Regions from separate parts of the Homo sapiens genome. Here regions 1 and 2 are each reported to be linked to region 3. Evidence: microRNA targets listed by miRTarBase, many of them from high-throughput screens and not tested one by one. Region 3 holds a microRNA gene; each other region holds the end of a gene's coding sequence.
The links. Region 3 holds the annotated microRNA hsa-miR-7151-3p (CUACAGGCUGGAAUGGGCUCA, at 2,230-2,250, shown strand). A microRNA usually pairs through its seed, bases 2 to 8, with sites in the 3' UTR of a target mRNA and lowers its output. Matches are read on the target gene's strand: a 7mer-m8 pairs with bases 2 to 8, a 7mer-A1 pairs with bases 2 to 7 and ends in A, and an 8mer does both.

Region 1: the mRNA of WNT2B is a reported target of hsa-miR-7151-3p. Seed matches in the 3' UTR shown: 7mer-m8 at 3,704-3,710.
Region 2: miRTarBase lists PSD4 as a target of hsa-miR-7151-3p. Seed matches in the 3' UTR shown: 7mer-m8 at 1,507-1,513.

The regions. Positions count from the first base shown.
Region 1 is chr1:112,520,136-112,524,135 of GRCh38, forward strand. It overlaps WNT2B (Wnt family member 2B), which reads left to right. Exons shown (of 5, transcript NM_024494.3): 5 at 145-4,000. The coding sequence ends at 374. ST7L (suppression of tumorigenicity 7 like) reads right to left here. Exons shown (of 15, transcript NM_017744.5): 15 at 3,379-4,000. Among named protein-coding and RNA genes, the nearest start is that of WNT2B, 13 kb to the left of the region's middle.
Region 2 is chr2:113,201,107-113,205,106 of GRCh38, forward strand. It overlaps PSD4 (pleckstrin and Sec7 domain containing 4), which reads left to right. Exons shown (of 17, transcript NM_012455.3): 17 at 52-4,000. The coding sequence ends at 309. Among named protein-coding and RNA genes, the nearest start is that of PSD4, 29 kb to the left of the region's middle. RefSeq lists enhancers at 2,779-2,828, 3,169-3,218.
Region 3 is chr10:67,401,601-67,405,600 of GRCh38, reverse strand. It overlaps MIR7151 (microRNA 7151), which reads left to right and starts at 2,191; the gene lies at 2,191-2,250. The region is part of intron 5 of CTNNA3 (catenin alpha 3); the gene reads left to right.

The DNA of each region.
Region 1 (4,000 bases), not on the chromosome of region 3:
TGCTGGGATGATAGGCATGAGTGAGCCACTGTGCCCAGCCCAAAAAAGCGATTCTTTTTATCTTCCTTCTGAGAATGTGGTTAAGGGTATCCAGGGCAGCTGAAGAGATAACTTTGTTCTCACTCCCTCTCTTCCCCAACCCAGGTTCCCTAGGCACTGCAGGCCGTGTCTGCAGCAAGACATCAAAAGGAACAGACGGTTGTGAAATCATGTGCTGTGGCCGAGGGTACGACACAACTCGAGTCACCCGTGTTACCCAGTGTGAGTGCAAATTCCACTGGTGCTGTGCTGTACGGTGCAAGGAATGCAGAAATACTGTGGACGTCCATACTTGCAAAGCCCCCAAGAAGGCAGAGTGGCTGGACCAAACCTGAACACACAGATACCTCACTCATCCCTCCAATTCAAGCCTCTCAACTCAAAAGCACAAGATCCTTGCATGCACACCTTCCTCCACCCTCCACCCTGGGCTGCTACCGCTTCTATTTAAGGATGTAGAGAGTAATCCATAGGGACCATGGTGTCCTGGCTGGTTCCTTAGCCCTGGGAAGGAGTTGTCAGGGGATATAAGAAACTGAGCAAGCTCCCTGATTTCCCGCTCTGGAGATTTGAAGGGAGAGTAGAAGAGATAGGGGGTCTTTAGAGTGAAATGAGTTGCACTAAAGTACGTAGTTGAGGCTCCTTTTTTCTTTCCTTTGCACCAGCTTCCCGATACTTCTTGGTGTGCAAGAGGAAGGGTACCTGTAGAGAGCTTCTTTTTGTTTCTACCTGGCCAAAGTTAGATGGGACAAAGATGAATGGCATGTCCCTTCTCTGAAGTCCGTTTGAGCAGAACTACCTGGTACCCCGAAAGAAAATCTTAGGCTACCACATTCTATTATTGAGAGCCTGAGATGTTAGCCATAGTGGACAAGGTTCCATTCACATGCTCATATGTTTATAAACTGTGTTTTGTAGAAGAAAAAGAATCATAACAATACAAACACACATTCATTCTCTCTTTTTCTCTCTACCATTCTCAACCTGTATTGGACAGCACTGCCTCTTTTGCTTACTTGCTGCCTGTTCAAACTGAGGTGGAATGCAGTGGTTCCCATGCTTAACAAATCATTAAAACACCCTAGAACACTCCTAGGATAGATTAATGTAGTAAGTCTGGCTAGGCCTTGTGTTGCCTTTTTTTTTTTTTTTTTTTTCTTTTCTTTTCTTCTCTTCCCATGCACTATTCTGGAGGTTTGCCAGGTTTGGGGAGACATGGAGTAAAAGAAAGATAGGCAACTCATGGATGGTGGGAGAGCAGGTAAGCAGGTCTGATCTCAAGGGCCCACATGAGGCATCAGTATATATTAGGCAGGTAGGGATCTCTGGCTTTGGTAATTCTTTATGAGAGGATCCTAGCCTTTGAAGCTGGGAGCAGGAGTCAGTGGCTACAGTGGGAAGGAGTACTGCAGGTTGGGGCCAAAGTGATACACAGCTTAGAAGGCAGCCTTCCTCCACTTACTCAACAAATCTTTATTTAGTGACTCTCCAAGTCCTAGTGATTATTATTATTGTTCACTCCACATTTGGCTTAATGGGTAATGCTATTACCCATTGCCTAACTAGGTTTGCAGTAGTGGAATCTCCAGAGATAGCAGGCTTAGTAAGCTGGAGGTAGGACATGAAGTCCCCCAAAACTTGATGTCCTATTTTTATGTGAGTTGGACAGTGGTTATCTTTTGCCTGTTGATATCTTAAAGCAGCAGAGTGGTATAGAAATTTGCGGTTATGACAGACCCGGGTTAAAAATCACAGCTGTGCCATTTGCTTTGATATTTTGAGCAAGGTAGCTAAATTTTCTGAGCTTCTATTTTCTCATCTGTAAAATGAGGATACGTACCTGTTCTTTTTTTTCTTTCTTTTTATTTCTTTTAGAGATAGGGTCTCGCTTTGTTGCCCAGGCTGGAGTGCACTGGCATGATCATGGCTCACTGCAGCCTCAAATTCCCAGGCTCAAGCAATCCTCCCACCTCAGCCTCCCCATTAGCTGGGACTACAGGGCCATGCCATCATGCCCAGCTAATTTAAACATAGTTTTCAGAGATGGAGCTCACTATGTTGCCCAGGCTGGTCTTGAATTCTTGGTCTCAAGCAATCCTCCCACTGCAGCCTTCCAAAGTGCTGGGCGTACAAGCGCAAGCCACTGTGCCCAGCTGTCAGACGCTGAGTTTTAATTATGCACCAAACTCCAGCCCGCAGATCCTCTTCACCAAAGCCCCTGGCTGGTCTAGCCCATCATGACTTCTCTAGGAACAGTCCTTCTTTAGGACTATAAAGTATTAACAAAAGTCTGTAGATTAAGGAGCCTGCATAAAGAATTCTGGATACAGGCCCCTGTCTTTCCAAAGTTCCTCTCCAATATCCCTTGGGGTCCTCATGTTTTTGAAGCAGCTTCACTCTGCACAGGCAGCAGGAGGTTGGGGGAGCCATAGCTCTGGGCCACGGGGGCAGATTTATTTGGATGATAGGACTAATATTTGTGTAACCTGCTGAGACCTGTGTGGGAGAGTTTAGGGTGGTTTTTCTTTTGGTGAGGGGATTTGCTCTGGTTTCACATCCATTAACACAAAACATGAGCTAGTCAGGGCCCTTGTGGTCTGCGGTAAGGGGATGCCTGTGGAGAAATGGGCCTGAGTGAGTCAGGCCAAGAGAATGTCTTCCTTCAGAATGGAGTCAACTGGATAACTGATGAGCCAATGGTGGGATTAAGGAGGGGGAAATGGGAGGGGAAGAGAACAGCTGACATCTTGAGGAAAGCTTTGGGGTAGTGGAGAGGTAAGGGGGTCATGGTCAGTCTGAACTCAACAATAGGGCTGAATGAATTTACCAAAGGAAGCTGCCTTATATTATATGCCAGGCTGCTGGGGAAAGCCTCAGGTCCTGGCCAGCCCCTGTTCTCACAAGAACATGCAGGTTACCACATAAATAATGGCATATGCCTTCCATAGGACGTCAACCTGACTTAAATCTACCTATACCCTACTCTCTATTCTTTGGTTTTTGGTTCTCATCCCTGTGGAAGGAAATGGGCCTCTTCTGGCATCTCATGCTACTCTGTGCTTTTCCTTGGGCTCCAAATTCTAGCTCATAAAGATGCAAGTTTTGCAATTTCCTATAAATGGTTAAGAAAAGAGCAAGCTGTCCAGAGAGTGAGAAGTTTGAAAAGAGAGGTGCATAAGAGAGAAATGATGTCCATTTGAGCCCCACCACGGAGGTTATGTGGTCCCAAAAGGAATGATGGCCAAGCAATTAATTTTTCCTCCTAGTTCTTAGCTTGCTTCTGCATTGATTGGCTTTACACAACTGGCATTTAGTCTGCATTACACAAATAGACACTAATTTATTTGGAACAAGCAGCAAAATGAGAACTTTATTTGGTGCAGTCAGGGCTCCATTTAGTTCCCTCACTCTGCTTCTAATCACCCCTTCTCCCAGCCCTCTTCTATTTGATAGAGGTCTGTCCCTCAGATCAGCAATGTCTTAGCCCCTCTCCTCTCTTCCATTCCTTCCTGTTGGTACTCATTTCTTCTAACTTTTAATAAACATTTAGGTATAATACATTACAGTAAGTGCTATTTAGATACAAACTTAAAACATACTATATATTTTAAGGATCTAAGAATCCTTTAGAGAAGGCACATGACTGAAGTACCTCAGCTGCGCAGCCTGTAGCCAGTTTTTTTAATGTAAAAGTAAGAATGCCAGCCTTAACCTAGCCCTGCAGATAAAAGCTAACTTTTATTAATACCAGCCCTGAATAATGGCACTAATCCACACTCTTCCTTAGAGTGATGCTGGAAAAATAAAATCAGGGGCTTCAGATTAAAAAAAAAAACAAAAAACAAAAAACAAAAACAAACATTGCCTGGCCCTGAGGGTCTGTTTGCAAAACTTCTTGTAGATCTAATTTCTGAACACTCACTGCTTCATTTCTATTCCTCCTGTTGCAGGGAGTAATTTC
Region 2 (4,000 bases), not on the chromosome of region 3:
CCCAACCTGGAGCCAGGATGGTGCTAAGGTGGTGGGGCCTGTGTGTTGCAGAAAACCCGCTACGAGACCTACGTGCAGCTGCTGGTGGCCCGCCTGCACTGCCCCTCTGATGCTCTGGACCTGTGGGAGGAGCAGCTGGGGAGGGAAGCTGGAGGCACTCGGGAGCCCAAGCTCAGCCTGAAGAAGTCCCACTCGAGCCCGTCCCTGCACCAGGATGAGGCTCCCACCACGGCCAAGGTGAAGCGCAACATCTCAGAGCGCAGAACCTACCGGAAGATCATCCCTAAGCGGAACCGCAATCAGCTGTGAAGCCAGCACCACCTCAGAGACACTGTTCCCTGCTCCAGGGTAGACCTGAGATGAACCTCCCTGGAGGAGACTTATTTCAATGAGTCCACCATGACGGATGAGGCACCTCCTTTCCCTGCTGAAGGACAAACCTTGTTTCCCTGTGGCCCTCATTCTTGTGCTCCCTGAAGCTTTCCTAATATTGCTGTGCTCCCCACCACCCCCATGGCAGTCCCTCCGCAGCCCCAGTCCCTGGCCACGCCCAAGGGAAGAGGGAGGTGAGGACTTGACTTTCCTCCCAGAGCTCAGCCCATGTCACCCTCCAGGCCCCAGAATCCAGAGTGGCCTCATTTCCTAGACTTGCTGAGAACTCAGCACTTGTTTGAGAACCAGTGCTTATGTGGTGTGCCCTTGGCTTCTGGGGGAGAGCTTGGGGCAGCAGAGGCCCCTGGGCAGCCCAGCCAGGGGAGCCACAGCCCCAAGGATGGTCTTGCTCTGGGAATTAGGTGACCTTCCTGGGGAGGCCCCAGGAGAGTGAATCAGGGACTCTTGAGAAATTCCTAACCAGCCTCCTGTGACCCAGGGAGCAGGGTCGCTAAGGTCCTGCCCACTGAGGGGACAGCCTTCTGGGCAGGGACCTCGGGGGGCTTCAAGGGCTCTGCACGGCTGTGGGGCCCTGTGCCTTTGTCTCCTTGTGTCTCCTTTCCCCCGAAGTAGATGAAACAGTCTCACATACCCAACTGCTCATCAACAGAGCAGAGCTGATGGCATGAGTGAGGGCTGGGCGGGGTGGGGCCTCCAGAGCTTTGCAGGGAACCCTGGAACCCTAGGAACAAGGAGCCTTTGTTCCAACAGAGCAGAGAAGGAGGTTCTCTATGTTCAGACCACTGGAGAGGATAGAGAGGTAAAAGGTGGCGACAGTTTCCCTTAGGGGTCTGCCTGGCAGGAGCCACAGCTCAGGAGAGTTGTGAGGGATGGGACGGAGGCTGGCGACCAGGCGAGGCCTAGGCCAGGCTCGGGAGACTTTTCTGTGCTCCTTTCTACACATGCCTTAAACCTTCCTTCCTGTGGGGTGCCTGGACCCCTTCCCCATCTCTGGCAGCTCAGAGGGTCTCTGCTGCTCTCCCCTGGGAAATCCCCTCATCCTGCCCTCTGGCTGCCTCCCAGCTGGGCTTGTTCTCTGAGGGAGGTTCCGGAGACTCATGGACTTGGGGCTCTGCCTGTAGGAAGGAGGCTGGGCCGGAGGGACCAGCCACCATTGTCTCTGTTCAGCCAAGTGTGCAAGTAGGCTGCCCGCCAAGAGGGGGCCTCTGCTACCCGCTGCTGCCTGCCGGCTGACACACTGCCTCCCCAGCCTTCCTGCTAGGCCACCCTCCTCCCTTCCCATGCTTGTAACCAGCTCTGGGGCTTGCACCTCCACAAAGTAAGGTTGGCCCTTGGAGGCCATGTTTGGGTCTCCGGCCAGGGCCTAGGGCTAGGCCATGCACCCAATGGGTGCACAATAAATAACAGGTCAACAAAGAGGGAGGTGTGTCAGTGTGTGAGGAAGGGAGGTCAGGCAGCTAGGACCACCTGCAGTGTGGCAGGCTTCATCCCTCTTTGCTCCAAGTGTGTATGTGTGTCTGTGCATGTGTGTAGTGTCTGTGTCTGTGTGTTCATGCATATGCAGGAGTCACACGGTCATAGGCCATCAAAGCTGGAGGAGACCTCAGAATCATTCATTCACCTACTTGCTCATTTATTCATTCATTCATTTTGCAGATAATATGGGACGCTTTCTATGTGCCAGTACCAGGGGATTCACAAATGAATTAAACATGTCCCTGACTCCATGAGTTGACAATCTTGCCCACTGGTTTCCTGCTCTCAGTTTACAGAGGCACTTTTATCTTGCTGGGGAAGTGTGCTGAAAAGACACATTCCCAGCCCACACCCAGGGATGCTGATTCAGTCAGCCTGGGTCAGAGGGATAGATAAATATGTTTAAAGCTCCTTGGGTAATTCTGATGTGTAAGTAGCAGTTAGCTGCAGTAGAGTCCAATTGCCTCATTTGATTGAAGTGGAATCCCAGCATCAAGTGGACATGACTTTTGGCCCAAGACTGATGCTTACAAACTAAGTGGAGTAGGTTATTTGACCTCACTGAACATGCATCCTTTTTTTTTTTTTTTTTTTTTTTTTTTTTTGGAGACGGAGTTTCGCTCTTGTAACCCAGGCTGGAGTGCAATGGTGTGATCTTGGCTGACTGCAACCTCCACTGAATCAAGCGATTCTCCTGCCTCAGCCTCCCAAGTAGCTAGGATTACAGGCGTGTGCCACCACGCCCGGCTATTTTTTGTATTTTTAGTAGAGATGGGGTTTCGTCATGTTGGCTAGGCTGGTCTCGAACTCCTGACCTCAGGTAGTCTGCCTGCCTCGGCCCCCCAAAGTGCTGGGATTACAGGCGTGAACCACCACACCTGGCCTATGCATCCTTATTTCTAAAACCATGATAAAAGGTGAAAGTCTGAATGCATGTGTGTGTGACACTTTGATGCTCCTTTGCTCATGTAGAACCGGCACCTCTCTTTCACCTGAGCACGTGGAATCTTCAGAGCCAGATGATGGTGGCTGCCTGGCCTGCCATAGTCAATGCTGCCCAGGCACCTCTGCCTGGAGGGTCTGGGTTGTGGGCTGCAGTTATGACATGTGACCACTTGGAGGCAGGCTTGCATCTTTCTAGCTTCTGGCTGCTCAGGTGTCCTGCTGTGGAGCTGAGCTGTGCTCCCTGAAAGGCAGGAAGTTATTATGTGTGCCCCTGTGCCATCACCGAACCAGGACCTTCAACTTCGTAAAACCCACAGTGGCCTGGGCCAGGACTCCCACCATCTAGGGAAGCCTCTCCTAGGGAAAAGACTGGGGCTCTGACATCTTCCTGCAGATGGAGAGAAAGAAAGACATCTCAGAAGTCTATGGGGACAGCCTACAGCTCCCCACAGGGTTGCTCCAGGTAACGCTGGAAGGTGAAAGCTGAGCAGGCTCCAGTCCCCATCCTAGGTATGGAACAGATCAAACCACCACAGGCCTATGTCTGACCTTGTTCCCACCCCATGCTCCTCTCCCACCTGTGTCCTTCTCTTTGCAGGAGAAGGGACAGACAGAGGTTCTCAGTGATGAGCTCAGGCTCTGGAAGGGCACTTGAAGTTTGGCTTTAGTTCTTCCTTTCCCATATAGGGGAGCTCAGCTTCCAGGGTCCTGGGCCTGCTGTGACCCAGGTTGTTACTCCTGATATAACTGCTTCCTGGGCTCTCATGATCTCAGCTGAGCCTGGCTTTCTGCTGATGATATTTGTTTGTTGCTTGCCAGGCACCAGGGTAGATAAAAAGATCACCAAGACCCGCACCTTTTTCCTTAGGAGGGTCTGAGTCTTCAGGAGACGGAGACATATGGAATGTGTCGGGGTTGGAAGGAGCAGGACTGGAGGGTCGGGGTGAGGGGGGCAGAGGGAAACAGGGCCGTCAGGGTGGCCTGAGGCCAGATCATACAGGGTCTCCAATGCAGCCAAGGAGAGTGGCTTTTTGTGAATGTGCAGTGCAACTTTTTTTTTTTTTTGAGACAGAGTCTCGCTCTGTTGCCCAGGCTGGAGTGCAATGGTGCGATCTCAGCTCACTGCAACCTCCGCCTCCTGGGTTCAAGAGATTCTCCTTTCCCAGCCTCCCAAGTAGCTGGGATT
Region 3 (4,000 bases):
CTCCCACTATTATTGTGTGGGAGTCTAAGTCTCTTTGAAGGTCTCTAAGAACTTGCTTTATGAATCTGGGTGTTCCTGTTTTGGGTGCACATATATTTAGGACAGTTAGCTATTCTTGTTGAATTGAACCCTTTATCATTATGTAATACTCTTCTTTGTCTTTTTTGATATTTTTTGGTTTAAAGTCTTTTTTTGTTAGATGCTAGGATTGCAATCCCTGCTTTTTTCTGTTTTCTATTTGGTTGGTAAATTTTCCTCCATCCCTTTATTTTTAGCCTGTGTATGTTTTTGCGTGTGAGATGGGTCTCTTGAAGACAGCTTACCAGTGGGTCTTGGTTCTTTATCCAGCTTTTTACTCTGTGTCTTTTAATTGGAGCATTTAAGGTTAATACTGTTATGTATGGATTTGATCCTGTGATCATGATGCTAGCTGGTTATTTTGCAGACTTGTTTATGTAGTTGCTTTATAATGTCACTGGTCTGTATACTTCAGTGTATTTTTGTAGAGGCTGGCAACAGTTTTCCCTTTTTATATTTAGTGCTTCCTTCAGGAGCTTTTATAAAGCAGGTCTGGTGGTAACAAATTCCCTCAGAATTTGCTTGTCTGAAAAGGATCTTATTTCTTCTCTTATGAAGCTTAGTTTGGCTAGATATGTAATTCTGCATTGGAATTTCTTTTCTTTAAAAATGTTGAATATTGTCCCCCAATCTCTTCTGGCTTGCATGGTTTCTGCTGAGAGGTCCACTGTTAGTCCAATGGGCTTCCCTTTGTAGGTGGCCTCGCCTTTCTTTCCAGTGGCCTTTGACATTTTTTATTTCATTTTGACCTTGGAGGATCTGATGATTACATGTTTTGGGGACGATCTTCTTGTGGAGTAAGTATCTTACTGGGGTTCTCTGCATTTTCTGAATTTGAATGTTGGCTTCTGTAGGTAGGTCAGGGAAGTTCTCCTGGATGATATCCTGAATTATGTTATCCAAAATGGTCCCATTCTCCTCATCTTTTTCAGGTACCCCAATCAGTCATAGATTCAGTCTCTTTACATAATCCCATATTTCTTGGAGGTTTTGTTTATTCCTTTTCATTGTTTTTCTCTATTTTTGTCTGCCTGTGTTATTTCAGAATGACATTCTTCAAGCTCTGAGATTCTTTCTTCTGCTTGGCCTATTCTGCTATTAATACTTGTGATTGCATCGTGAAGTTCTTGTTGTGTTTTTTTCAGCTCTATCAGGTTGGTTATATTCCTCTCTATACTGGCTATTTTGGCTGTCAGCTCCTGCATTGTTTTATCATGATTCTTAGCTTCCTTGCATTGAGTTGCAAAGTGCTCCTTTAGCTCAGTGAAGTTCATTTTTTAGATCCACATTTGGAATCCTATTTCTATCATCTCAGCCATCTCAGCCTCAGTCCAGTTCTAAATCCCTGCTGGAGAGGTGTTGTGGTCATTTAGAGGAAAGGGAGCACACTGGATTTTTGAGTTTTCTGTGTTTTTGTGCTGATTCTTTCTCATCTTTGTTGGCTTATCTACCTTTGATCTTTGAGGTTGTTGACCTTTGGATGGGTTTTTGTTGTTGTTGTTCTTGTTGTTTTGCTCGTTTTTTCTTTGAACAGTCTGACCACTTTTCTGTAGGGCTGCTATGATTTGCTGGGCGGCTGCTTCAGACCCTAGTCACCTCAGTTTTTTCAGTACCTGTAGGTATTACCGGTGAAGGCTGCAAAACAGCAAAGATGGCAGCCTGCCCCTTCCTCTCAGAGCTCTGTCCCAGAGAAGTACTGACCTGTTGCCAGCCTGAATGCACCCATAGGATGTGGCTGGAAACCCTGTTTTGGAGGTCTCACCTAGTCAGGAGGAATGGGATCAGGGACCTCCTTAAAGAAGCAGCCTTCCTGCGTTTTTGTAGAGCAGCTGTGCTGTGTTTGGCTTCCCTTCACCCCCATATAGTTTTGCACTTTCCAAGGCCCACAGGTTGGACTGGGTGAGATGCCCAAACAGCACAGGTGGCAGCCCACCTGGCCCCCTGGGCACTCCATCACAGGGAGAAATTAGAACTTTGTCAGCCATAGAACATGGGTGAGGGTGGTTGGAAGCACTGGTTGGGAGGACCTGCCCAGCAAGGAGGAATGGATTGGGGTTCTATTTAAAGAAGCAGTCTGGCCACACCTTGACAAAACAGCCATGCGTTGCTGGGGATCCATCTCTGCCTGTATTGGCTTGGATTCTGCAAAGCCTACAGGCTGGAATGGGCTCAAAGCAACATTGGCAGCTCATCCCTCCCCACTGGGCACTCCAGCCAAGGGAGAGATCAGAGTTCTTTCCTAGAATATGGGCAGGGGTGGCTGGAGGTCCCTATTGGGAAGTCCTGCCCAGTGGGGTGGAATGGATTGGGGTCCCACTTAAAGAAGTAGTCTGGCCACATTTTCATAGAGCAGCTGTGCTGTGCTGTGCTGGGGGTCCCTTACTTGTCCAGACTGTTTGGACTCTCCAAAGCCCACAGACTTGAACAGCTGAGTTGTCCAAATAACAAAGGTGACAGCCCACCCCTTTCCCTGGCAGCTCCATTCCATCTCAGGCAGGCACTACCCTGTTGCTGGTGGCTGGCTGAAGTTCCAAGCCAGTGGGTCTTATTTTGTGAGGTGCCTTGGAAATGGGGCCCACAGATGGACGCTGTTCAGCTCCCTGGATTCGGCCCCCTTCCTAGGGGTATGTATGGACCTCCCGCCTTGACTGAGTTGTAGTCACCTTTGCCAGGGATCCTGTGGCTGGGGTATGTAAATCTCCTGGGTCTCTGTGCATACCTGAGTGGCTGCCCTGCTGAGACTCCACACAGCTCTGTGTATCTGACCCAAGGTCCTGGTGGAGTGGGTTTATGAGGGGATCTCCTGATCTGAGGGTTGCAAAGATCCATGGGAGAAATGTGGTTTCCCAGGGTGGCACATTCACTTACCACTTCCTTGGCTGGGGTGGGGGTTCCCTTGGCTTTGCGTCACTTCCAGGTGGGCTATCATCCTGCCCTACTTTTCTCTGTTTTCTGTGGATTGGTTATTTCCCTGATCAGTCCCAGTGCGAAAACCTGGATATTTCAGTTGAAGGTGCTGTATTTACTCACTGCTTTTCTTCCTCTTTATGAGTGCCATGCACCATAGCTACTTCTAATTGGAGGTCTCGGCCCACTCTCTGCTCTTCATCTTTCTCAATTCTCTTTTCTGTATTTTTGTCTGACTGTGTTAATTGAAAGAATTGCTCTTTGAGCTCTCAGATTCTTTCCTCAGCTTGGTCTATTCTGCTGTTAATACTTCCAATTATATTATGTAATTTTTGTAGTGAATTTTTCAGCTCAAGAAATTAAGTTTTTGTCTCTCTTTAAGTGAGAATTTCACCTTTCAGCCCTTGAATCATTTTACTGGATTGCTTGGCTTCCTTGGATTGAGTTTCAACTTTCTTCTTGATCTCAATGAGCTTCTTTGCCATCCATATTTTGAATTCTATGTCTGTCATTTCAGATAATTCAGACTGGTTAGGAAACATTTCTGGGGAGCTAGTGGGCTCATTTGGAGGTAAGGGGGCAGTGTGGCTTTTTGAATTGCCAGAGTTCTTATGCTGATTCTTTCTCATCTGGGAGGGATGGTATTCTTTTAATTGTGGTGTAAATTGAGTGTACTTTGTTGGCTTTGTTTCTGAAAGTTTTTAGAGAACTAAGGCTCTGTATGGTGTCTTCGTTGCAGAATTCTTACTCTTGGTTTTGCAAGGGCAGGATTAGTAAAGTGATTTTGGTGTTGTAGTTTGGGCTACAATCTAGTAGATGGTCCTTGAGAGCAATGGGCAGTAGATAGGCTTCTACTCAGCCTTGTGGTTCCTTTGTCTATGTTAACATTTGCAGCTGTGTTCTGCAGTGCAAGGGGGAAATAGATGACCCCCTCATCAGGTCTGCTTGGGGGAGCCACATCCAATCACTAGCACTGTACCTTCGATTTTGTTGTTGTTTTTATTAGGTCTTTGGG